5 separate regions of the Homo sapiens genome follow, and all the other regions are linked to region 3. The links come from fine-mapping of genetic effects on gene expression. A gene starts in region 3. Each other region holds a variant in brackets. All regions are shown on one strand. Distances are from middle to middle. Region 1 holds the start of LINC01300 (long intergenic non-protein coding RNA 1300). Region 2 overlaps SLC45A4 (solute carrier family 45 member 4). Region 3 holds the start of SLC45A4 (solute carrier family 45 member 4). Region 4 overlaps SLC45A4 (solute carrier family 45 member 4). Region 5 overlaps LOC105375784 (a long non-coding RNA gene).

Region 1 (5,100 bases), 30 kb before region 3:
CCTTGGCACTGTTCCTAATAGAGCCTGGGATCTTGTTTGAGCCCTACAAGGAAGCAAGGACCCCAGGCATCATCTTACAAACAAGGAAACTGAGGCTTGGGGAGGGGAGGAGCTTGTGGGTCCAAGTTCCCTGCCGGCTGTAACACTGTAGGAGTCAGAACCTGGCCAATGCCTGGAGGGGGCTTCCTTGGCCAGGGCTGAGCCTCAGGCTGCCCCCACCCCATCTCTCCCCCACTCCCATTGCATATGGAAACCAGAAAATCAATCCTAAGACCCCCAGCCAAACGAACGGACCCTCGTCTTGGCTAAGGACATTCCAAAGTGAACCTGAAAAGCGAGTTCAGGCCACGGTGGGAAGCGGGAGACGGACATACCTTGTTATCCCCCCTCCCTTTTGGAATGACTGGCAGAACAGTCTTTCAGTCTGATAATAAACATCTCCCATCCATTCTCTCTGCAGTCTGCTGCCTGGAGGCTTCATCTGCATGATGAAACCTCGGTCTGCACAACCCATTATCTTAACCCAGACATTCCTATCTACCGACAATAACTCTTTCAACCAACGGCCAATCAGAAAATCTTCGAATCCACCTATGACCTGGAAGCATCCCCGCTTCCGGTGGTTCCGCCTTTCTAGGCGTAACCAATGTACAGCTTATGTGTATTGATTGATGCCTTGTGTCCCCCTAAAATGTATGAAACCTAGCTGTGGCCCGACCACCTTGAACACATGGTCTGAGGGTCTCCTGGGGCTGTCATGGGCCCCCGGCCATTCATCTTTGGCTCAGAATAAATGTCTCAAACACTTTACGGAGTTTGACTTTTTGTTGATATATACGTCCAGGGAGGCCTCACTGCAGACTTACTGGGCCGCAGGGGCCTCAAGGACCAATATGGCCCCTCCTCTTGGAACAGACGGCCCCAAGCCAAGAGGACTTGGGGACCCTGTGGCCCAAACGGGTCATTTCACAGAATGGGAGACGGAGGCCCACACGGGGAATGGAGGAGAGCGAGGTGGAGCAAGGCCCTTCCCAGCCCTGGGCGGCCCCTTGACCCTTTTGTTCCCCCTCGCTGCCAGGCCTGTGACTGGGTGGGCCTGGGTCTGCAGCCCTACGGGGACTGGAGGGACAGCTGAGTGAGCAGAAGGTGCCTTGTGGCCAAGGCACAGAGGCGTCAGGGCCCAGCTGTGTTCAGCAGGAAGAAGGTCTGTGAGTGGAATATGGGGGTGCAGCGGGGTGGGGGGCGGCCAGCCTGCAGCTCAGATGCTGCGCTGGGGCTCCGGCCGTGACCACGCTCAGCCTCTGTGTCCTCCCCGGTAAAGTGGGAGGAATCGCCTTCCACACAGGACTCGGGGCTGGGTGAGGGCTGGGCGGCCACCACCACCTGCCCTGGGGCAGCAGGAGCTGCAAAGCCAGGCTCAAGGCCTGGGGGAAGGAACCCGGCGCTGGGTGCCCAGAGTCCAGATGAGATGGGTTTGGGGGGAAGGAACCCGGTGCTGGGCGCCCAGGGCCCACATGAGTTGGGTGTCGGAGGAAGGCAACCCCACCCAGGCCACCCCAGCCAGGGCTCAGGGACTTTGCCCACATGTTACCCTCTGGATCTTTCGGAACATTCTGCTGAATAAAAACTGGATTTAAAAAAGAGGCCAGGCACGGTGGCTCATGCTTGTAATCCTAGCACTTTGGGAGGCCAAGGTGGGCAGATCACTTGAGGTCAGGAGTTCAAGACCAGCCTGACCAACATGGTGAAAACATGTCTTTACTAAAAATACAAAAATTAGCCAGGTGTGGTGGCACATGCGTGTAATTCCAGCTACTTGGGAGGCTGAGGCAGGAGAATCACTTGAAATCTGGAGGCAGAGGTTGCAGTGAGCTGAGATTGCGCCACTGCACTCCAGCTTGGGCAACAGAGTGAGACTCCATCTCAAAAAATAATGAAAAATAAAAAAGGTATATTCTATGAAACTCTATTTGGGGTGTGATCTCGTTTTTAACAAGTATTTAAGAAGTAGGCTGGTGCAAGGTGTTTCTAAATGCTTCACAGTGTTATCTCTAGCAAACATTTCATCTGACGGTCTTTTGAATGAGGAGCTCCTGAACGTTCGGCAGAGGAGGTGGAACAGAAGAGAGAGGGCAGGCAGGGGCGTCTCCCTTCTTATCAAGGTATGACTAAGGGCACAACCTTATTTCCAAACAGAACAGTGGACAAACCGGGAAAGGGAGAGTCTGGAGAGATGAAGCGATACTATTAGTGCGGCTGACATGTCAATCACGGGGCTGGCACCGTTCACAGCTCTGAGGCTGCTGGATCTTTCCTGCCTCTCACCTCTGCTCTGCTCAGGCAAGCCTAGCCAGGCAGGGACTGGAGTTGGGGGCTGTTTTCCAGTTCACAGAGGAAGTCACAAGGCCCTAGGACACTCAGGGCCTTGGGAAAGCCAGCCAAGGACCAGAACAGATGTTTCGGCCTGACAGCACCTACTCTTGGGTTAAGCATCACCCTCGGTTTGAAAAATAGAAGTGAGGCCAGGAGTGGCTCACACCTGTAACCCCAGCACTTTGGGAAGCCAAGGCGGGCAGATCACTTGAGGTCAGGAGTTCAAGACCAGCCTGGCCAACATAGTGAAACCCTGTCTCTACTAAAAATACAAAAATTAGCCGGGCGTGGTGGCCGGCACCTGTAATCCCAGCTATTTGGGAGGCTGAGGCTGGAGAATTGCTTGAACCCAGGAGGCAGAGGTTGCAGTGGGCTGAGATTGCACCACTGCACTCCAGCCTGGGCGACAGAGCAAGACCCTGTCTCGATAAATAAATAAATAAAATTTTAAAAATAATAAAAAAAAAACAGGCTAGGCACGGTGGCTCATGCCTGTAATTCTAGCACTTTGGGAGGCCACGGTGGGCGGATCACTCAAGGTCAGGAGTTCAAAACCAGCCTGGCCAACATGGTGAAACCCTGTCTCTACTAAAAATACAAAAAATTAGCTGGGCGTGG[A/T]GGCGCACACCTGTAGTCCCAGCTACTCAGGAGGCTGAGGCAGGAGAATCTCTTGAACCTGGGAGGTGGAGGTTGCAGTGAGCTGAGATCGTGCCACTGCACTCCAGCCTGGGTGACACAGCGAGATCCCATCTTAAATAATAATAACAATAATAAAACAGAAGTGGGTAGGGCACGGTGGTTGACACATGTAATCCCAGTGCTTTGGGAGGCTGAGGCAGGCAGATCACTTGAGCCCAGGAGTTCAAGATTAGCCTGAGAAACATAGTGAGACCCCGTCTCTACAAAAATAAGTAAATAAATTAGCCAGGCATAGTGGTGCCCACCCATAGACCCAGCTACTCAGGGGCCTGAGGCGGGACGATTGCTTGAGCCTAGGAGTTCAAGACCAACCTGGGCAACATAGGAGACTTTGTCTCTATAAATAATTTTTAAAAATTAGCCAGGCCTAGTGGTACACCCCTGTAGTACCAGCTACTCAGCAGGCTGAGGCGGGAGGATTGCTGGAGCCCAGGATGTTGAGGCAGCAGTGAGCTGTGATCATGCCACCGCACTCCAGCCTGGGCAACAGAGCAAGATCCTGTCTCTAAAAAGAAAAAAAAAGAAGTATTCGTAGGAGGATCACAGAAGACCCCCAACACCCTGGTGATGTCACCCTGAAGTCCAGGAGAGCCGAGGCTGAAGTCTCGAGGGGAAGGACCCGGCCTCGATTGGGCCGCAGCCTCGGCGCTGGAGCCAGGTCTAAGACACTGCTCTCTATCACGCTGGGTTCCCCCTGCGGTGCTGCACGGCGTGGGCTGGGCACCCCCTCTGGGATCAGTTTGCTCCCTGCAGGATGACAGGGTGGGCAGGGACATGTATGGGACTCACCACCCACAGCAGGGACCCAGGTCCTTCCCCGTCTGGCTGGGGTCAGCCTGGGAGGGGCAGGGTTCCGCCTGCCTGATGCATTGCCTCCTGCTCACCACCCCCAAGCAACACTCCGGTCACTTCTTACTTCCATACCAGGTCTTCGCACTTGCTATTCCCTCTGTTTCCCATGCCTTTCCTCAGGAGAGCTCCTATGCCTCCCACACACAGCTGGGCCGCCGTGTGGTCTGGGAAGCTGTCTCTGAGCAGAGGCAGCCACTGTGCCCCAAGCCCCGTGGGCCCTCGTCCTCACCTCCATTCAGCTGTGGCCCTGCTGGATCGTCACCATCCAAGTTGATACTCTCTCCCAGGGCCCCGTGAGCCCCATCAGTGCAGGGAGTCCATCTGCTCTCTCCCGACTCCCTGCTGCACCTGGTCCAGGGTTCCCCACAGAGGAGCTACTCCATGAAGGCTCAGGGACCAAATGTGGAAGTCCCAAACATGGGCTCCAGGGAGGAGGAGAGACAGGCAGGGCCATGCGGTCAGATAGGGACAGTGAGGAAACCATTGACACGTTGATCTGTGTCACCCACATAGGAACCCTGGGGAGATGCCAGTCTCTTCTTCCCAAGCTATGGGAAGGGGAAACTGAGGCTCAGAGACACAAGAAACCTGCTGGGTTTCAGGAGTCTAACCCACCAAGGACCCCAGGATGCCTCACACCCTCCCCAACCCCACTTCCCAGCACCAGGTTGAAGACAAACTGGACTCACACCCTGGTCAAGGACTACCACCACCCGCCGCTGCCCACGTGCAGCCTCCGGTCTTCCTGCCTGGAAGCGGGCATGAGTGTGCATGTGTGCATGTCCACACAGGCATCTGCTGCACACCCACCGGCTTCCTGATCCCCTAAACAATCTGTCAGCTGTGACTGCCCATGTCCTGGCCCAGGTGCGTGCAGAAGGGTGGGATTAGGGAGGGAGCCCCGAGGGTCTGCAGGGGAGGCCGGGTCCGGGTCAGGGACACAACCAACGTGGCTGATGGGGTGGAGACGGCTCAGGCTTTGAGCAAGGACTTGGAATGTAATCCTGTGTCCAGATCCTTGTCAACAGGAGGCTTAAAACATGGGTGAAAGGATGGCACTCAAGAAAGACTGACCTGCCCCTCCAGGGCCCAGGTAGGGCACACCTGTGGGGTCAAAGCTCTGGCTTCTGGTCCAGCAAGATCCAGCTGAAGATGGTCACTAAGAGGCCTAACTTC
Region 2 (5,100 bases), 65 kb after region 3:
ACACTGCCTGCGATGCTGCTGGCAGACAGTGCTGCTGCCCCTGGGAGGCCCCTCCCTTCCCCCTGCCCTTGACTCCTGGGCCTAAGGCTGGTCTGGGGTTGGGACACGCTGAGGGTCTGTGAGTCCCATCTAGCTCTAAGAGTCCAGCCTCCTCTGAGCGGCAGGTTGGGAGTTGTCTGCCATCAGGTGACTTTGGTGTGCTTATGATGCTGAGACCAGATTTTGGGGTCTCCTGGGAGTCCCTGATGCTCTGGGATTCTGCTGGCTGCCCCCCGGGTCAGCCCTGGGGGAGGCAAGCAGTAAAGGGGGCTCTGGGAACCCTGGACAGAAGACGTGATGGAGCGGAAGGCCCATTGTTCGTTGAGTGATGAATTAACACTTTCCTTTATGATGATGATTCAAGTCCTGTTTCTGGTTTCTCTTTCATTTCCATTATTTGCTCAAGTGACAGAGATTTCCTGTCCCTCCTCGAAACGGTGGTGGTGGAGGTAGCAGCAGCCAGCAACCCAATGTTGGCTCCTCTTGGAGAATCCAAAAATCGACCATGTTCCAAGTGTGTAGCCTTACTTATCTCAGCAGATACCAGCATCTCCTTTCTTCTGGAAACGTGTGCAGAGTTGACACATATGATGTGCTTAGAACAGAGCCTGTAATTGTTAGCTGTTATTACTGTCATTATCTTTTTCTCCACTTGGGTTCGTAGTCAGCAGCCTTGGTGGTAACTTGTCGAGGGCCTGCCTCACACTTACTGTGGAAAAGTCACTCAGTGGGGCAGTTTGCACCTCATTCATTGCACCCCACTCTAGCCCAGCCTCCACCTCCACACCGCCCCCCCCCCCCACCCACGTCTTCTTGCTGAATGCGCAGGGATGTCCTCATTTCCAAACTCAGAGGTTTTCTGGGCCCTGGTGCTGGCCCTGTCTCCCATCGCACAGGGCTGAGTGGGCCTGGTTTCCGGCTCTGCCCTCCCTCACTCTTGTCCTGTGTGTGTCCCGTCCTGAGCCCCGTCGGTGTCACACTGGACAACTCCAGGGTCTGTCACATTCAGTATGTTTGAGAGAGCAGTGCTTTCGAAAATGGTGGCATCTTGGATTTGATGAAATACAGCCCATCTCCAGGCCAGACTTGTCTCTGCAGCTGTTTACTGCTCACATCCGCCTGGCCTGGCCCCTCTGCATGCTCCCACTCAACGCACTCCACAGTGTGTGCATCTCTTCAGTGTTCACATGTGCTCCAGGACCCCCTGCAGCCCTGTCTTTCCACCCGTTGTTCCTGAAGGTTGCCCTCTCCCTCCTAGACTGTGCATCCCCTAAGGACAAGGTCCAACTCACCTTTGTTCCCATGCCCAGTGTGGAACAAAGACTTGCAGGACTGAACGAGTGACTTGCTGATGAAGGAGAAATTGACCTGCCTTGGATGCCTCATATGGCCACATGCTCCTGTCCCAGGTCAGAAGCTGATGTATTACATTCCGGAGGAGGCTGGAGGCTACTCTGCCTCCGGCCCAGGCATGGGCTGGACTCCATCTGGAGCTGCTCGCTTGGAGGAGGCACAGGGGAACCTCCTGCAGGCAGGGCAGGGAAGAGGCCTTTCAAACCCAGGTGTTACCAGTCAGCACTGTGCCCGAGACAGAACCTCCTGTGACCTCAGGACAGGCGGAGCGCACCATGAAGAATAGGGGCGCAGTCTCCCAAGTAGCCGAGTTGATTGGGAGGGCAGTTGGGTATACAGCTGACCCTTGAGCAGCTCAGGTTAGGGGTGCCAACTCCCCATACAGTCAAAAATCCATGTGTAGCTTTTGACTCCCCCTAAAACCTGACTACCAACAGCTTCCTGACTGGAAGCCTTACCAATAATATAAGCAGTCAGTTGACACATACCTTCTATATTATATGTATTATATGTTTATAGTAAAGTAACCTGAAGAAAACATAGCTAAGAAAATTATTAAGAAGAGAAATGTATTTCCTATTCATTATGTGGAAGTGGACCGTCATAAAGGCCTTCATCCTCATCTTCATGTTGAGTAGGCTGAGGAGGATCAGGAGCGGGGGTCTTGCTGTCTCGGGTGGCAGAAGCGGAAGAAAATCTGTGTAA[A/G]TGGACGGTACAGTTCAAACCCACGTTGTTCAAGGGTCAACTGTATTTTAATTTATTTTTGAGACAGGGTCTCTGTCGCCCAGGCTGGAGCACAGTGGTGCGATTACGGCTCACTGCAGCCTTGACCTCCTAGGCTCAAGCCATCCTCCTGCCTCAGCCTCCCAAAGTGCTGAGATGATAGGTGTGAGCCACTGCACCCGGCCTGTATTTAAATCTTGAAAGGTTTTTGGCAAATGTCATTTCAGGTTTAGTATGGTTGATGGCAAGTGGTTTTGTTTTTCTGACAGCGGAAGGAACGGCTTTTCCTGTTCTTAAAAAGCCTTTCTAGTTTGTGGGAATGAGAGCGCCATTGACACAGATGCCACTGCGCTTCGTGCTTGCTGCGGCGGGGGGCACCTGGCGGAGCTGCTCTCGGTCACATCCCCACACCGCTGTGTAGGCTTGCTCAAACCTTGCCCTCCCTCCGACATTGGAGGACCTGCTGAGCCACATGCAGTGTCTTGGGACACAGAAGGCAGACATGGGGTCCCCCTGACTTTCTGGTGGCCCGGTGGGGAGGACAGTCATGGAAACAGGTTGCTGCAAGGTGGTGCTCAGAGGGGGACTGACAGTGTGTGGAGGGACCCCGGAGCAGGAGTAATACTCCCAACTCTAGCAGGTTTTTCTGTGGCTCCCAGCAAAGTCTTGGAGGTGGAGCTCTCTGTCACCACCCGGTAGATGGGTCCTCGCCCTGCCGGCTCCCCGCTGCACACGGGCTGGCTTAGGTTTGAAAATCCCGTCGCCTCTTGTGAGAGATTCTATAGCCTCCTACCACATTGCGTGGCCTGGGATACACATTCAGGTCCACATTCAGCTTCCCGCGGTGTTTGTATAAACCCAGGATGGTGGTAGATGGGCTCCCCCAACGTGTGGCCTCCAGTCTCGGGCCTGTGCATTGAGGTGCTCGTGGAAGACAGTATCTGCCGGCTCTCTTCCCAGCAGCCTGTGAGTGAGAGCAGGGAGTGGCAAGCTGCCTAATGGAGGAGTTTGACTCAGCGACTTGTCCAGGGTCAGTGTTGGGCTTGTTATCTGGGGCACTCACCGATGTACCACGGGAGCTGCAGCAAGCTACGAACTGAGCAACTTTGTATTCTCATGAGACCCTCAGGCTCTTTTCCCAGCACTGTCTCGCCCGTTCTTGATAATGGGGGAGTATGGTGTTCTTTCTGATACTGGAGCCCGCGTTTCTAATCACAGCACTTCCCCCACTGGTCTAAACATCCTCTGTGGGAAAACAATGTAGAATTGTCACAGCCAGGAGCCACGTTCATTCCCGCTGTGGAAGTCACTTGGGCCTGGCCTATTAGATACCTAGGTTTAAGAAATTTAAAAATCACGGTGATTCCAGTACTTATTTTATTTCTTAAATTCTATCTGTCACATGAGCTGGATTATTTAGAAGACTCTGGGCCTTTTGATCATCGTCCTGGTCATCACTCTTAGCTGTGGAGGATTTTGTTTTTCTTTCACGGTGAAGTTTGAGTCTGTGGGTTTTTATTTTCAGTTGCCAGTTGTTCCCTGTGATCTCGGCTAAATGTGCGTATAATGATGGCCACACTTGGCGGGATGCGCCTCTCTTTTCATCTCATCTGTGCAGGGAGCTTGAGGATAGGCTCCCAGCCATGAGGAGGGCTGCCTGCTCTTTTCTGTCTGACCTGGAGATTCGGGCTGTCCCGCTGTCCGTGCGAAGGCCACCATACACTCCCTTGTCTTGTCCCTGTATGCACCATGCCTTCACAGCTGCCATCTGTGTCCCGGCAGGAATGGCCCTGCCCCCACTTCTGCCTGGCCAGGATGGGACCTGAATCCTTGATTCCACACAGCCACGTCCTTTTCTGAAGGCGCTCTAGAGCAGAAGCAGTGGTCCCTCCTAGTGCTGGGGGGATTGCTGGGCTCCCAGGCCTGGGAGGAAAGGCTTGGAGGCAGTGGGGGTGCCCAGACCTCTGGCTGGCTGTGAAGGGAGAGACAGCCCACCTGTCCCCAGAGGACCCTGTCAGCACCATCCCCTGAGCAGGTCCTGCCCCACAGAGCCAGCCCACCAGCGGTTCCCAGACCTGACTCAAAAGGGAAGCTGTTTTTCTTTTTTTTTTCTTTGACTGTATTGTAATGGATGCAAAGGCACTGTTTTTAAAATATGAATTCTACTTTCTTAAATGGACAGCGCCTTCACCAAGTTCAGAGTTGAGAAGTTACCATAGGGCAGACAGCGAGGTTTCCGTCCACTCCTGTCCCGCAGCCTCCCATCTCCCTTCCCCGAAGGCAGCAACATCCCCAGCTTCTACACAGTCGCACCATAGGCAAGCGTCCTTGGACCTCGCCACTGTCCCCAGAGCAACTCTTGGAGAACAACAGTGCAGATAAAGCCTCTGGTTCTGTGTCCACCACGTTGCCGGTGAGCCGTCTGTCGCCCTTCTTGGCTGTGCTGCTGCTCCGCCTGCCCGCAGAGCCACTGCTCACCGCAGCCTGGCCGTTTGTGACGCTGTGTGTGTTATGCACTACATTTCCACACCATTTATTGAACGATGCACTTCTGGAGGAGACTTTTAAAAATATGTACATTCTTAGCCCCAGGCTGAGTCCCATAAAGGAGATGAGAGCACACCCACAAACCGGTGCCCATAGGCCCACAGCGCCCCAAAGCGGGGAGAGCGGGAGGGTGTGAAGTGGCCCCGATGTTAGTCAAGACCCAGGAAGATACTCCCCCTCCCATGGATCCGGGCGGCTGCCCCCAGCTGCCCTCACAGGACGGTCTGGAGGGGAGAGGAGGGCTTTGTCTGGGAAGCGTCCTGCAGGCCCCACTCTGCACATCCACATGCGTCTCCACTGCAGCACGGCAGGTGATGCGTGTGGTGTCTCAGAGCTAGGATCCAATCACAGTGTCGGGCAGCCGGTTTCTCATTTTACTTATTTATTTGTGAGACAGGGTCTCGCTCTGTCACCCAGGCTGGAGTGTGGTTGTGCGAT
Region 3 (5,100 bases):
TTCTATTGCCCAGGCTGGAGCGCAGTGGTGCGATCTCAGCTTACTGCAACCTCTGCCTGCCAGGTTCAAGTGATTCTCCCGCCTCAGCCTCCCAAGTAGCTGGGCCCACAGATGCACACTGCCCCAATCAGCTAATTTTTGTATTTTTAATAGAGATGGGGTTTCGCCATGTTACCCAGGCTGGTCTAGAACTCTTGAGCTCAAGCAATCCACCCACCTCGGCCTCCCAAGGTGCTGGGATTACAGGCATGAGCCACCACCATGCCCAGCCCCAAGAAATACTTATGGAGCACCTACTACAAGGCTGATCCTAGACTGGGCTCCATGGCTACCATGGCTGGTACATACCCCACAATGCACTCCTTAAGAAGAGAGATGGGATCATGTTCCCAGCTCCAGTACTAGGACCCAGCAAAGCGTGTGGCACATAGTAGGCACACACTCAGTAGTTGGTTACTGCATGAATGACAATGAAGACAATTCAATCAATACCAGCAATTTGTGAATAAACAAAGTCTTTACCTGTTCTGTCCTCTTGATTGTATTGTCATTTTAAAAAGCATCATTTTGCTATTTTGTTTAAGCTTCAGGACAACTTGTGAACTAGGTACTATTAGAATGCTCACTTATAGAAGAGGACTCAGGGAGGTTAAGTAGGCGCCCAGGCTCACACAGTTGGCTCACAGCACACCTGGAATTGCCGCTGCCTCTATCCTTTGGCCATTGAAAGAAAAATCACCAGGGAAGCAGATGTACAGTTTGAGCACTCATGATGTGTCTGATGCTGCTTTGGACTGTCTACAGACCATTGATGTACTTACTAACCCTCTGTTGAGATACTGCATACACATGGAAAAACACACACGTCTTTTTTTTTTTTTAATAGAGATAGGGTCTTACCATGTTGCTCAGGCTGGTCTCAAACTCCTGGGCTCAAGCAATCCACCCGCTTTGGCCTTCCAAAGTGTTAGAATTACAGGCGTGAATCACCGTGCCCCACAGGCACATGCATCTTGACTGCACAGCTGGAAAAGTCATCATAAACTGAGCACACTGTAACCAGCACTCAGACCAAGACACAGAACACAGCCAGCCCCCAGACACGTCCTCTGTGCCCTGCTTCCTGGCTCTGGCACCCCTCCCTCCAAGGGTAACCACTATCCTGACTGCTACCCCCATATACACCTTCTACCACTTTATCCACATGGAAACAAATATGGCTTTTTATCCTCTGGCTTCTTTTCCTCAACATCATTTGTGAGAGTCATCCATGTTGTTGTGTGTAGTTGATTATTCACTGTCATTGCTGTCATTCCACTGTGTGAATATATCACAATTTATGTATCCATTTAACGGCTGATGAGCATTTCAGTAGTTTCCAGTTTGGGGCAATTATAAACACTGCTGCTATCAACAGAAACACAATGTTAGGTGTGTATCTAGGAGCAGAATTGCTGGGTAATCAAGGCCTTTCAAAAAGATTTTGAAAGTTGTACCACTTTGCATGTCCACCAACAGTGTCTGGCAGTTCCAGTTGCTCCATTTCCTTGTCAACACTTGATATGGTCAGATTTTCCCATTTCCGATGCTCTTGGAGGCTCTGCTCTGCACTTCACTTCTAAATTCCTTTAGCAACAGGTGAGATGGATCTTACGATTTCTATTTTACAGATGAGGACGCCAAGGTTCTGAGAAATGAAGTAATTCCTCCAAAGCAACTTAAACCCTGGCAAGGGTGCAGGGCTGCGACGTTAACAGGGTTGGCCTCAGCCCATCACATCTGTCTGTTAAAGCCGCCTCCCCAGACCTTGTCTTGATGGGGTTTCCCAGCAGTCCTGCCCTAGGGATTGTGGCCCTTCTACACGTGGGGAGAGACGGATCAGTGTCCCTGGCCAGGGCCAAGCCTGAGAGGGAGGCCCAGCCTCCAGGAAGCTCCGGGTCGGGTCTTCGTCCTGCCCCGCTCTCCAGGTTGGAGAGGGGACCCGCAGAGCGCGGGGCGTTGGGGGAGTTGGGGACGGGGGCGTGGTCCGGGACCAGGTAGGAGGTCTTCGGAGGGTGGCAGGGAGGGGAAAACAGGAGAGTTTTCTCCTGCAGCGGAGGAGGGGCTGCAGCACCTGGATGGGGCCCATGTCGCCGCGCCACGGGCAGGGGCGGAGGGGGCGGGAGGGTGCTTGCCAAGGGGCTGGGCTGCCGGGGGCCGGGGCCTCGTGGCTAGCCGGACCCCTCTGCGACAGAGTGGCGAGAGGAGCGGGGAGAGAAGGTGGGGACAGGCGGGGGCCACCTCCTGCGGCTGCAGAGAGGGATGGGGTGGATTGCGGGCCAGCGCTTTAGGGGAGAGAGGGCGGACGCTCGGTGCGGAGGGGCCGGGGCCGGGGCCGGGGCCGGGGGCGTAGCGGGAGGAGGGCGGGGGCGGGGCTGGATTATGGCTGGGGGCGGGGCCATGGCGAGACGGGGGCGGGAGCCACGGTGCGCGCGGGGGCGGGGCAGGGGCGCGGCGGGGGCGGGGCGGCCGTTCGGGGGCGGGGTGGGCGGCAGCGGAGGCCAATGAGCGCGCGCGGCGCAGACCCCGCCCCCCGAATCCCCGTCCCGCGGCGGCGGGTGCTGCATAGTCATGAGGCGCAGGGGCCGGCGCTGCGTCAGCGGAAGCGGCGCGGAGCGGCTGTTTCCGACCCGATAAAGCGGCGTTGTCTCCGCGCGCCGGCCGCAGCCTCGCAGCGCTCTCTCCGCGCCCGCGTCGCTGACTGACCGCCCGGCCGGCCGGCCGAGGGAGCAGCCCCCGCCCGGACCCGCAGCCGCCTCCCGACCCCGGTGCGCCCGGGGCTCCGCGCCCCCGTAGCCCCTGCCCGGCCCGGCCCGGCCGCCCCGCCGCCCCCGCGGCCCCGGCCGGAGGAGACAGGTGAGTGGCCTGCCGCCCGCAGCCGCCTGCCCCGCCGCCCCCTGCACCTCGCACCTGGGCGCCGGGCACCTGCAGCCTCCCCACCCCCACCTCCCGCACAGCCTCGGCCTCCAGGTCGGGTCCGCGCCGCAGCCCCAGCCCCGCACCTTCTCCGGGGGAGGGGACGTGCCCCCACCCGGCTTGCGCTGGCTCCTCAGGGCCCCCCAATTCCTTCCCGCCTCCTCTTTCCGGATTGCACCTGCCCTGGTCCCCAGCCCTGCAGCCTCCCTCATTCCCCCCACCCCGGCCCCCACCCCGGGGCGCGCGCCTTCATTTGGACCCGGCCCGCTTTCGCACCCATCAGTCCTCCCCGCCCCCAGTTCCTCGGTTTCTCTACCCAGAGAGGAGCCTGGCGCCTCTAACTCCTGGTCCTGACCCTGTCTTGTCCTTCTAACCCCTGCCTGCTATCTCTAACTTATGAGAATTCAACCAGCGATACACCACTCGCGAAGTGGCCCCCTCTCCCCTCTGTCTGGACCGGTCCTCCCAACCGAACACACTCCCTTCTTCCCCTTCTTCCCCTTCCCTTCTTCCCCTCCTTTCCCTCTGCCCAGTGCACACACGACCCTGGCAGCACTGCTAGCCAGTGTCCCCCGCCTCGGACCCCCAGCCTGCACCGCCAGACTGTGGCTCTGCCCCGGTCTCATCGGCACTGCGCTCCCTTGTGTCCCTTTGAAGATACCTTGATTTCCTGAGACCGACCTTGTCCCTGGAGGAAAGAGGCCAGGGCATCAGTTCATCCGGGCCCAGATTCCCTGCTCTGTAGAAGTCCCCGCACCTTCTGCGTCTCAGCACCCGCTGCCCCTTTCCCCTTTGCGCTTAACCCGTTCCTCCCCCAGGTATCCTGCTCTGGATTGGAGCACTTCCAGCAGCGGCTTTTCCAGCGGAGGCGGATCCACACGGGGCCCAGCCTCCTGGTTAGCTATTCAGAATGATTCTAGAAGGCGGGGGCTAGGGAGGGCTGGGAAGGGCCGCTTGACCTCCTAAGGAGCCTGAGGTGTTTGTGTCTCTCCAGTGCGGGTCACTGATGGAGTGTGGCTTCAGGTTCACAGACCTAGCCACTGACCCCCATCTGATACCTCAGCTGACTCCAGCAAAACAGGGCTTGTCGTTTTTATTACTGTTTTGGGGGCTGTCTTTTCCAGTCTATGACCCGGAGCGAGGAGGGTTTACCAGATGAGTGATTGAACTAATTGTTGTGGGGTCAGATGATTCTTGTGGGCTGGTAGATTCTGAATCGAAGCCCATTTCTGCTGGGGAAAAGCCACTGCATCTGCCCAGCATTACTGAGAGCGCCCTGCGCTTCCATTCCCCAGACGGTCTCATCCTTCCTGTGTCATTGGCAGACAGGTAGAATGTGGTAGGAATCTTATCCTTCTGTTATTTTGTGCTGGCTTTAGGAAAAAATAAGAAAACAAAAAGCTGGAGTATTGGTGTACAGGTTAGGGAGTGTAACACATGGGGATCAGAGCAGGTAACACACACTGTCCTTAAAAGAAATGTATAGTGTCCTCACTTTTCTGCTAGGTTTGAATTATTGTTAAAAGAACGAGCAGAGATTATTTAAATGCTTGGGAGAGGTTTTGCAGAAGCCACTTGATGAGAAGAGGCAGCCCTGCAGGTTCCGGGTGGAGGAGACTCAGGCGCAGTAAAGAACTCATGTGTTTCTAGAGAGAGGCTGGGGAACTAGGTCGTCTTACACATCAAGGATTTCACACCCGTTCAGGCTAATTGTTTTTGTGGCAGTGGCTGTAAAGGAAAGAAGCAAATCGTTTGAAATGTGTTTGAAATACACACTGGGTATTTAAAGGTGTGTTTTTTTGGCCCAGGTGTTCACAGGGCGGGGAGTGGGGAGGCTGCCCAGGGCCACCTCCCGGGCCTCGTGGGGGGAGTGGCCTGCTGCCCTGCCGAGATGCGTGCTGCAGCTTTGGCCCTTGTCGCATCGTGAAAGCAGATCAGAGATTGGACTGGGTGAGCTCCAAGGTGTGTGTCTTGCAGCTTGTAACACCCTCTAACTTTGCTTATTGGAGGGGGGTGGGGGAGGGGCGGAGCAAGCCTGTAAACCGGATTCTGCCTCCTTTCCGTGAGCTCTGAGATCCCGCCCCAGCCCGCCCCGCAGATCTGCAGGGAAGGAGAGGGCTGCGGCAGCGGCAGCTCCCCACTTTC
Region 4 (5,100 bases), 82 kb after region 3:
AGCCTGGTGTTTTCTAGAAGAGGAGGTAGGGTGGGGTGGGCGGTTGGAGTCTGGTGTGGAGAGGGAAGCGGTCTGGCATGGGCTGTCCAGCCAGTGGGTAGGGTAGGGTGTTGTGGGCTGCAGGCATGAGGCAGGACTTTGAGGGCCCTGGACGCCACGGCAGGTGCAAGCAGTGGGTTTTAGGTGGTCACTCTGACTGCAGGTGGCGGGTGGGTTACGGAGGATGAGGGAGGAACCAGGGGTCAGTTGGAAGCCTGCTATGCTCACAAAACTCTGCTCCTGAGAGTGCAGCTCTTTTAAGGGCACTAAGCAGTTATTGAATGTCAGGTAAGGGGGGAAGGTAAAGTACTTCAGGCAGAGGCAGCAGTGTCTTCGAAGGTCCCATGGGCGGGAGGAGCCGATGGGGAGACAAGTGTACGGCGGGGATGTGCAGCCGAGGAGGCAGCGGCACCTGGCGCCAGGTGGGCTGTGGGGCGGGTGGTGTTGGTGCCCGGGGTCCTGACAGCATGAGTGGTGGGTGACAGAGCCTTTTCTCTGAGTTAGGGGACCCCAGAGGAGGTCTAGATATGAAGCGGCACATCCAGAGATGGGTTTGGGATGTATTGAATTAGAACTTTCCTTTCTCTCTTCCAAGGCCTGGGGTAGCTGTTGGCTTCTGGAACTGATTGACCCCTGAGCTTAGCCAGGGCTGCAGGACATGGCCTGACCTGCATTTTGTGCTCTTCAGGAAGCTTCCGGAATCTCAGGCCAAAGGCCATACGGTTGTTTATACAGCTACGATAACATCACTGTGTCATCACAAAGATGTTTGCTTGTTGCAACATCTGTTTTAAAGAGCCGAGAATGGGTGGCTGTGCTGATAGGGCAGAGAGGAGCCCATGCTCCAGCTGCGGGGAGTGCCTGCCCGAGGAGCTGGCCAGTGAAGACAGGTGCCTGCCAGTGAAGACAGGTGCCCACAAGCTGGACACAGGGTCGGCCCTGAGACAGGACAGCAGCTGCGGAATGTTCCCGCTGGCTTTCTGGAGCGCCAGCGTCCTGCTTGGGTCTGGCCAGGGGCCTCTAGCCAGGCTGTTGAGGCGCCCCTCCTTGTTGAAGAGGAGAAACAGTGGCCCCCTGGGAGTTGCTGGGAGGTGCCTGGCACAGGGCGGCAGGGACAGCATCATCTATGGGGAAAGCAAGCCCAGCCTCAGGGCTGTCCCGTCCAAAGACCCTTGTGAGTCCACTGAGGTCAAATCAATGGAGTCTTCAGAAAGGTTAGAATGCTCAATTTCAAAACTGCTGCCTCCACCCAGATCACTCCATCTAAAGCTTGCGGTGAGCCACAGCCTCTCGGGCACCCAACAGCTCCACTCCACACAGCTCTCCCCTCAGGGCTCTGCCTCACCCTCTAGAAATGAGGCGCTGGGTCCTGGGTTTCAAGTTTCAATTCCTCCTCTCCTACAAAAGGCCAAAGCCCGGGAACTTATTGTCCCCGGCCCTTCAATGCCAGATTCTCCCACAGGGTTCAGAGAGCCATGGCTGGCACTCCGGGAGGGGCTGGGTGGGCCGTGGGTGTTGGAGTGGGAAGGCGGCACATGTGAGAACACTCAAGGTGCTGCTGTCCCCTCCACCCTAAATGACGGGCCGGTTTGTAGTAGGCTCAGGAAAAGCACCTGAGCTTGCCCCTCTTTTCACCCCCTCCCTATCTTCCTGTGGCTGTAGTGGTTCTGGAACATTCCTTGCAGCTGTGGGGCCCTCGCCAGCACAGAGCCTCAGTGCCGGGGGCCCAGTGCCAGTGGCCCTTCCCCTCTTGCAAGCAGGTGGCCCGAGCCCTGGGGGCCCGGCTCCCCCGGCCCAGTGTCTTTCCTGTCTGGGGCCCTTCAGAAGTGGCTCCTGACAGTGTTCCTTGACTTAAATTCATCAGAGGTCACTCAAGGATGCTAAGCCTTTCCCACGCAGGACTTGTGCTCACGAGTTTCGCCGCACTGTGGCATTTGGTCCCAGCACACAAGCGTATCTTGATGTGGAAGCTTTGTCCATTGAAAGAAAGAATGCAAGTTCCTGTTCCCATTGCGGATCTTTTGTTAAACATTTATAGGCGACTTTCCCACTCCTTGCCCTCCCCACCCCCCGCCAGTCTCCCCTCACCAGAA[A/G]GTCCCAGTTTATCACACACGGCACTGTGAACAGGAGCCGCCACACGTGACCCGAGCGTCGCCCGTGACCTCACACAGCCTGCGGCCGAGCGGTGACACAGTATTTCCTGTGAACGGAGAGCCTTCCTGGTCTCACCATTGTTGTTCAACTTTTCCCTGGGAAAAAACAAAACTTATTTACTGGGCCCAGCGTTGTGTGTGTTTGGAGCCGGGCTGGGAAATGCCCCGTCAGAGCCGTCCCAGTGGCAGCCCCCTGCTACGAACGGGGGAGACCGAGTTCTCACCGCCGGGGACGTCAGAGCAGGACCTGCGAGGCAGGGAGGCGGCAGCTGTGCCCTCCCGGGGCCGTTTTGAAGATACGATGAAAAGTGTTTATTTTTCTTGCCAAGGTGCTTAAAACAAAGGAAGCTGTCCCCTGATACTCGGGACCACTCACTCCTGCAGCCTGGCTCTGTGGGCACCCGGCAGGCGTCCCGTGGCCGTGCTGCCTCAGGTGCTGGGGACTGAGATGGAGTCGCTGACTTCCTATTGGGCTTGAGCTTTCCTTGCAGCCTGGAATTCACTTTTAGGCTGACTGGGGAGGGAAGAATGAGACAGACACTGCTGGCCCTGTCCCGGCCCCCCGGCCTGTCTCTCCATCCTCGGCCTGACCTGCTCATGGTGTCTGCGGCCTTCACCCCGTGACCACTCCCGAGGGAAGCCGCCTGCGACCCTGGCAACCCTCCTGCCTTGTGTACCCCAGTCGTGGGTCTCCTGCTCTGGCCAGATTCTGGATTCCTCCAGAGGGGACAGGCCAGCACCTGGGGTGGCGCCAGGCCCACCGAGAGGTTCAGCAGCGACAGCTGTCGTTGGGTGTAGATGCTTGGTGCCAAGGCGTGCCGCCCCTTCCAGGGAAAGCACGTGGGGCAGGGCACCTTGCGCACCAGCATTGAGAGCACCCCAGCAGGAGGCCCGTGTGCTGCTCGCCGCACTGAGCATCGTGGGTGGGAGGCACGGGCGGTGGTGCCACGGTGGGCTCTGTGTCTCCACTGATCCCCTTTGAATGTGCCAAGTGCCAGTCCCGACGTGTAGACTTGGGGTTGTCCAAGCAGAGGGGAAAGATGGAGAAAGGAAGCCCCACAGTGTCTTGTTGAGGATTGGAACGCGGGCCCTGACACCGCAGGGTGTAAAGTTAAAATCACGATGTCAGGCCATGAGGAACGGTCCAAGGCTTCCAGGCACAGTCCATGGCAGCTGTGTGGTTTGAGGGGCTGACCTGGGTCCCAAGGCAGGCCGGCCAGATGTAGGGGTGAGTTAGTGGGAGTCAGAGAGAGGCGTGGGGAGGCCTGACCTAGGGCTGGGGGCTGGCAACACAGGAGAGACCAGGGCCGGGGCCGCACGGAGGCTGGGGCAGCTGTGGGGACTATAGGAGTCAGAGCTGAGGGCAAAGGGGAGGAGGCTGGCGGGTGGAGGTGCCCAGGGAGGCCTGGGGCCGGGTCCCACCAGGCTCTGGAGGGGCCTGTGGGACAAGGGTGGAGAAGCAGCCTCCACAGGAGGACTGGGAGCCGAGGGCCTGGCCCGGGCCTAGCGGTTCCCCCCAGTGCCCTGTGCCTTCTTGTCTCCCGGGGTGAGAAGCCTCCCTTCTGGGCTGGGGACGGCTGCCTGGTCCAGGGCTGCTCCGGACCCAGCGTCTTCCCGGCTCCCAGGGTTGGCAGCACAAAGGCGGGACAGGCCTGTGCACGCAGCGCCTCCTCTAGATTAGGTGGGCTGGGTCGCACCTGCAGGTCCTCCCCACCCTCCTGACACCCAGCCAGCGCTTGGGGCAGAAACCAAGTAGGAAGGTGATGGCTGGAAGAGGGAATGCCTGGGTTTCTCTCTTGGCACCGCTTTTAACCCGACTGTTGGCCTTCGTTGACGCAACACAGGGTGGCTGAAACTTGGATAGTTAACTCCACTCTGCCTTTCTTGAAGAACCCACAGGCAGAGTTCGGGTGGAGTTAGGAGATGGGGCGGGAATTTCAAACCCTCGTGTTAAATAAAACCATGAACACTCTCAGAGGAATATAGCAGTGTAGTCTATGACACATCATTCACAGTGTCTAGGATACAACTCAATGTTATTAGACATGTTTTTTTTAAAAAAGAAAAGGCGACCGTTGCTGGAGGACGGCAGCAGTGGAGGCTGACCCACGATGATGTCGCGTGTCGCACTGGTCAGATGGGTGTGCGTAACTACACCCAAGGACAGAAAACATGCTCAGAATGGAGAGCACAGAGTCCCAGCAGAGAAATGGAAGCTACAGAAATAGAGCCAAGTGGAAATTCTAGGTCTGAAAACTACAGTATCAAAATAGAAAATGAACCAGATGGGGTTAACAGCAGATTGGAGGGGACAGAAGAGTCAGTGGACTTCATGATATGTCAACAGAAATGATCATATAGAGATTAAAGCCTGAAAAAAGAAATGAAGAATGCTCCAGGAAACAGAGGGATGATCTCAAAGGTCTGATGTCTGTCATGGGAACCCCAGAAGAAAGGAAATAGAGAATGGGATGTAAAACCTTTGCAGGGGCAGGTGCAGTGGCTCACGCCTGTCATCACAGCACTTCGGGAGGCCGAGGTGGGCAGATTGCTTGAGCTCAGAAGTTTGAGACCAGCCTGGCCAGCATGGCAAAACCCTGTCTCTACAAAAAATACAAAAATTAGCCGCCGGGTGTGGTGGTGCACACCTGTACCCAGCTACTCGAGAGGCTGAGGCACAAGAATTGCTTGAATCCAGGAGGCCGGAGGTTGCAGTGAGCTGAGATTGTGCCACGGCATTCCAGCCTGGGTGACAGCAAGACCCTGTCTCCAAAAACAAAACAAAACCAAAAAACTCACAGCTTTGAAGTAAGACGTAACGGGATGAACGGGATGTTTTCTAAACTTGGTGAAACGTATAAATCTACAAATTCATAAAGCTCCAGAAAGCCCAACCAGGATGTGTGTC
Region 5 (5,100 bases), 250 kb after region 3:
TGAAGAAATTTTACCTTTCACACGTACAGTCATACATAAAGTGCACCTGTTCGTTTACTGAGGAAGTTTCGATGTTTTTCCATACATGTCCAATGCTTACACACACAGTCAGCATATGGTAATGCAGCTCCATGGAGTCAAATTTCTAATGTCCAAGGCAGCAGAGGAGAAGTCCCAGCTCTCAGAAAGAGACCAATTCGGGCCAGGCACAGTGGTTCAGGCCTGTAATCCCAGCACTTTGGGAGGTTGAGGCGGGAGGATCACTTGAGGTCAGGAGTTCAAGACCAGTCTGGTTAACAGGGCAAAATCCCATTTCTACTGAAAAAAAAAATGCAAAAATTAGCTGGGCATGGTGGCGGGCACCTGTAATCCCAGCTACTCAGGAGGCTGAGGCAGGAGAATCGCTTGAACCTGGGAGGCGGAGGTCACAGACAGCCAAGATCATGCCACTGCACTCCAGCCTGGGCAAAAGAGCGAGACTCCGTCTCAAACAAACAAACAAAAAAAGAGACAATTTGCCTTCTTACTTTGTTCTCTCAGGCCCCTGGCCAATTACATGGTGCCCACCAACAGTGAGGGGAGAGCTTCCCCACCTAATCCATCTAGACTCACTCACCAACCGCTTCTGGAAGCACCTTCACAGAAACACCCAAATTTCTTTTTTTTTTTTTCTTTTGAGACAGGGTCTCACTCTGTTGCCCAGACAGTAGCACGATCCCAGCTCACTGCAGCGTTTGACTTCCTGAGCTCAAATGATCCTTCCTCCTCAGCCTTGACCTCCTGGGCTGAAATGATCCTTCCTTCTCAGCCTCCCAAGTAGCTGGGACCACAGGTGTGCACCATTATGCCAGGCTAATTTTTGTATTTTTTAATTTTTTTAATTTTTTTTTTTTAGAGATGGGGTTTCACCATGTTGTCTAGGCTGGTCTCAAACTCCTAAACTCCAGTGATTTGCCCACTTCAGCCTCTCAAAGTGCTGGGATCACAGGCATGTGCCACCGTACCTGGCCCACGCCCAGATTCCTTAATCCAGCCAAGTCAACACCTGAAATAAAGTCCGCAAATCCACCCATTGTCAACTCGGCACCCATACACGTCTCCTTAAACCATGCTATTTCCAAATAAAGACAATAACAAGGCACTAGCTCGCCTAACTTGATGCAGTGAACATGGTGCAACTATCTCGTGTACAACCGAAAACGCACTGATCCTTTCCTCAGAATTTGGCTTTCAAGATTTCAACATTCAAGATTTTAACCTCTTGGAATTGTGATTTGGGGGATTTAGACTTTGGAGATTTTGACCTTTTGGGGTTTCAGTGTTTGGGATCACGGCATCGGGATTGTGTCTTTGGGATTATGATCAGCACCCGTCCCATCTACCTGAGTCCGTCCCTTGGAACCAGCTGGAACTGGACTTGCTGCATCCCCATTTGGGGGAATCATGACAGAGCCCACCAGCCTATCGTTTGTCCTCTCCCACCCATCATCCATCCACCTACTCCTCCATGAAATCTAACCCAGCAACTTTTGTCCTTGGTCATAATCCTTTATTCTTACTGTGTTGCCCAGATGTAAATTGGTTCAAAAAGTACAACTTGCCCACTCACTCCTTTATCCATCTACCACCCACCTGCCCACCTATCCAGCCACCCACCCACTTGTCTGCCTATCTATGTATTCACCATTCCTCCTCTACCTATCTATCCACAATGATCCCCTCCCCCATCTGTCTATCTACCTATTCGCCTATCCATCACCTCCCTACCTGCCTATCCACCCACCTATTCACTTATCCACCCAGCCAGAGATCCATGATCCCTCCACTTCCCCATCCAACTATCCATTATCACCACCCATCCTTCCATCCTCTCTCCATCCAGTCATCCATCCATCCATCCCACCATCCCCCCACCTACCTTGCCAGCAATCTCATTCCTTCTTTCATCAAAAGCCCTGAGCAGCTACTGTGTGGCGAACCTTGTTCCTAGGGGCTAGTGATATATAGAGATAATTAAGAAGCCTACACTCAACAGCAGGGAAGAGGAAACTCACATACATGAGCCATGGCAGTGCAGTGTGGCGACAGCATGAATGAATAGGCAGATGTCCAGGCTGCAGTGGCCGAGAGGAGGCACCAGCCTCTTTTTGTGGGGACACTGGGAATGTTTCTCAGATGATGGCACATTTGGGCTTCAACTGATGCACGGGTGGGCATGCCCCAGGGAGTGAGGGGACAAGCAGGTGCAAAGGTGTACAGGTGTGACGGTTTCCTAGCTGGGAAGATGTTCTCGGCTGGAAGGTGTGAGTGGCAGCTGCAGAGGGATTGGGCTGGGCAGGTAGGCTAAGGTCAGACTGCATAGGACTATGAACTTGGCCATGAGGGTCTAGTCAGCTCCTGGGAAGCAGCCAGACCCACGGAACTACTGAGACTACACCTTACCCCAG[C/T]GGCCCTCCTCCTCCCATCACTGCCCTGCCATGCCTCCCTCTGCCTGTCTGCACTAGCCTCTCACCCAGCCCCTGTCCTGTCCTGGCCTCCACCTCCACTTCTCGACACCCCCAACACCAACCACTTGGAGCCCCTGATAGTCCCCAAAGTCTGCCTCACCTTGTCTTCCCACGTGCTGTCCCACATCCTGGGGCACACGCCTTTGCTCTTGTTCTGAACCAAACTCCTTGACACCCACCGTAAATGACACCTCTGTCCCCTGCCCACCCTCAAGGGCAGTGGGCATTCCCACCCCACCCATCCAACTTGCCTGTATCTTGAACAGACCTCCACTGTCATTTTATCACCAGTGTCTGTCAAAGGGCCTGCGTCTCCTGATGGGTTGGAGACCCTGGAGGCAGGAACAGGGCCTTGTCCACCTCTGCAAACCTGGTGTTTAACTTGGTTCCCAGTATACAGCAGGTGCTCAATAGGTGCATGTTATGTAAAGTGAACAAATGAATGATGGAAAATAACTTTCAGCCTTGTAACCTGGAAGGCCTTATGTTAGCCTTAGCCGATTGTGAAATCTGAGCCCCCGAGGCCGTCAGAGTCCACTTGTGAGTGAGGATCCCTGGGAGGAAAACGACTGGGAACATTAGAGTAAACAGGCAAATTAAAAAACAAAACAAAATATTCTGCATAAAATGGAGCCATCACAGGTCAGGATCACCCTTTGAGCTCCCAAGGTTTGACCCAAGAAAACAATGCTTGGAATTGCGGTCAGGTGGGTTTAAAATCCATTTGCTGTGTATCAGCTGCGTGACCCTGGCAAGCCACTTGGCCTCTCTGAACTCAGTCTCCCCATCCGTCAAGTGGGTCCAAAAAAGAAGCATGAGGCCCTGCTGTGTGGCCCCAGGTATATGCACCAGGCTCACCCTGCCCTGCCCAGCTGGCATGCAGACCGGTGCCAGGGCCCCTTCTCAGCTTCCCTGAAAGTCCACAGGCCTTCCCAGGCCTGCAGTTTAAATGAGGCTCCCTCGGTTTTCTCTCTACGTGGCGCAGAAGGGCACCGTCTATCAAGCACTTCCCTCGTGACAGGCACGGAGCCAACGTTCCCGTTTGATTCTTCTCATCTCCATAAGGGAGGCAATGATGCCATCCACAGGGGACAGGGACACCCGGAGCGGTGAACGTACTGCTGAGGTCGCTCGGTCAGTAACTGGTGGAGACTTAGACACGAGGTGTCTGACTCCAGAGCCCCTGGCGGCCCAGAACCGAGATCTTGGCTGACTTTGGAACCACCGAGAGCTGCACAAACGCCGATGCTTGGGACCCCCAGATTCGATTTCACGGCCCGGGCTGCTGTCTTGACCGGGATTTTCCACACTCCATGGGTGATGGGCAGTGGGAGGGACGCTGCCCTCTGTCGTCTCTGCACACAGACCTCTGGTGGTGGGGGTGAGTCCTGTGCATCGTTCTGTCTGTCTACAAGTTCCACGTCCACTCTGTCCCCTGCTGCCCACCGACTGGGTCAGGGCCCCTTTGTAGGATCCTTGGAACCCTCCACTTTCACTTAAGGCTGGTCCGGCTTCCCCCTGAGGCTGCCCAAGAAGGCCTTAGGATGGGTTGATGGTGTCCCCGCCGTGTCCACTCAGGACCCCAGAATGGGACCTTATTTGGAAATGGAGATTTTGTAGACGTAATGAGTTAAGATGAGGCCATGCTGGATGAGAGTGGGTCCTAATCCAATGGCTGCTGTGCTTCTAAGCAGCAGCAAGGACACAGAAACACGCAGGGAAGGCCACGTGCAGACCGGGGCAGAGACCAGAGGGAGGCAGCCACGAGCCCAGCAGTGCGTGGAGCCACCAGAAGCTGGAAGAGGCAAAGAAGCTTCCCCCAGAGACTTCAGAGCGGGCAGGGCCCTGCCGGCACCTTCATCTCAGATTTCCGGCGTCCAGGGCTGCAAGAGATAAATTCTGTTGTTTTAAGCCGGTTTGTGGCAGTTTCTTAATGACAACCCTGGGAAACAAATATGGGGCTCATCCCCCCATTTCCTGCTCTGGTGGAGTTCTAGAAACAGCAAAAGCCCTGGAGCTTTGGGGGTGCGCTTGTGCAGGGGCGGCTGTGAGGACCTGCCGCCCAGCCCTCCGGCTTCAGGGGCTGCGGGACCCAGCTGCCATCCTGCCTCCCACGGGGGCTCCTGGCTGGAAACTGGGTGCAGTGGGGCCACCGAGGCAGGCCCGGTCCTGAGAGGTGCAGGCCGACTCTGAGGGGCCACTTAGGCTCAAGGACTCCTGATGGCCTTGCCAAACCTTCTGGACTCGGGACCACCCAGGATGCTCCTGCAGCCCCCTCCCTCCCCCTAAAAATGTTTCCGAGGAGCTAACCACTATGGGTCTGGCCCCTTGGGACTCCTCCCAGCCACCGCCCCACCCGTATGGCCATCCCCACAAAACAGATGCCCAAACTGAGGCTCGGAGAGGGGAATCGACTCGCCCAGGGCCACAGAGCTGCCCTCCACCCCCAGCCCGCCCCCACCGTCAGATCAGCAGTTCTCAGAGGCCTGTTGCCATGGTGCTGGAGGGAGGAGCAGATTCCTGAGCTACATCCAAAAATACACACCAGCTCCTTCCTCCCTCCTGACTTCCCTTCTCCCAACCAATGTCAAAG

The links. PIP is the estimated chance that this variant, and not a neighbour inherited with it, causes the effect.
Region 1: its variant is fine-mapped to the expression of SLC45A4 in monocytes (Quach 2016, PIP 0.95).
Region 2: its variant is fine-mapped to the expression of SLC45A4 in whole blood (TOPMed, PIP above 0.99).
Region 4: its variant is fine-mapped to the expression of SLC45A4 in whole blood (TOPMed, PIP above 0.99). The same link has a PIP of 0.9 or more in monocytes after R848.
Region 5: its variant is fine-mapped to the expression of SLC45A4 in sigmoid colon (GTEx, PIP 0.98).

Annotation. Positions count from the first base shown.
Region 1 is chr8:141,335,947-141,341,046 of GRCh38, reverse strand. LINC01300 (long intergenic non-protein coding RNA 1300) reads right to left here and starts at 498. Exons shown (of 4, transcript NR_024441.1): 1 at 375-498. RefSeq lists a silencer at 2,023-2,317 and an enhancer at 5,036-5,100. The variant A/T (reference allele first, on the strand shown) is at 2,992.
Region 2 is chr8:141,240,698-141,245,797 of GRCh38, reverse strand. All of the region lies in intron 2 of SLC45A4 (solute carrier family 45 member 4), which reads left to right. Among named protein-coding and RNA genes, the nearest start is that of SLC45A4-AS1, 11 kb to the left of the region's middle. RefSeq lists enhancers at 348-517, 4,433-5,100. The variant A/G (reference allele first, on the strand shown) is at 2,098.
Region 3 is chr8:141,305,891-141,310,990 of GRCh38, reverse strand. It overlaps SLC45A4 (solute carrier family 45 member 4), which reads left to right and starts at 2,703. Exons shown (of 9, transcript NM_001286646.2): 1 at 2,703-2,895. RefSeq lists silencers at 2,468-2,707, 2,728-2,827.
Region 4 is chr8:141,224,332-141,229,431 of GRCh38, reverse strand. The region is part of intron 2 of SLC45A4 (solute carrier family 45 member 4); the gene reads left to right. Among named protein-coding and RNA genes, the nearest start is that of SLC45A4-AS1, 28 kb to the left of the region's middle. RefSeq lists an enhancer at 775-1,628. The variant A/G (reference allele first, on the strand shown) is at 2,133.
Region 5 is chr8:141,059,268-141,064,367 of GRCh38, reverse strand. It overlaps LOC105375784 (a long non-coding RNA gene), which reads right to left. Exons shown (of 3, transcript XR_002956733.2): 3 at 1,875-4,390. Among named protein-coding and RNA genes, the nearest start is that of PTK2, 61 kb to the right of the region's middle. RefSeq lists an enhancer at 3,971-4,668. The variant C/T (reference allele first, on the strand shown) is at 2,448.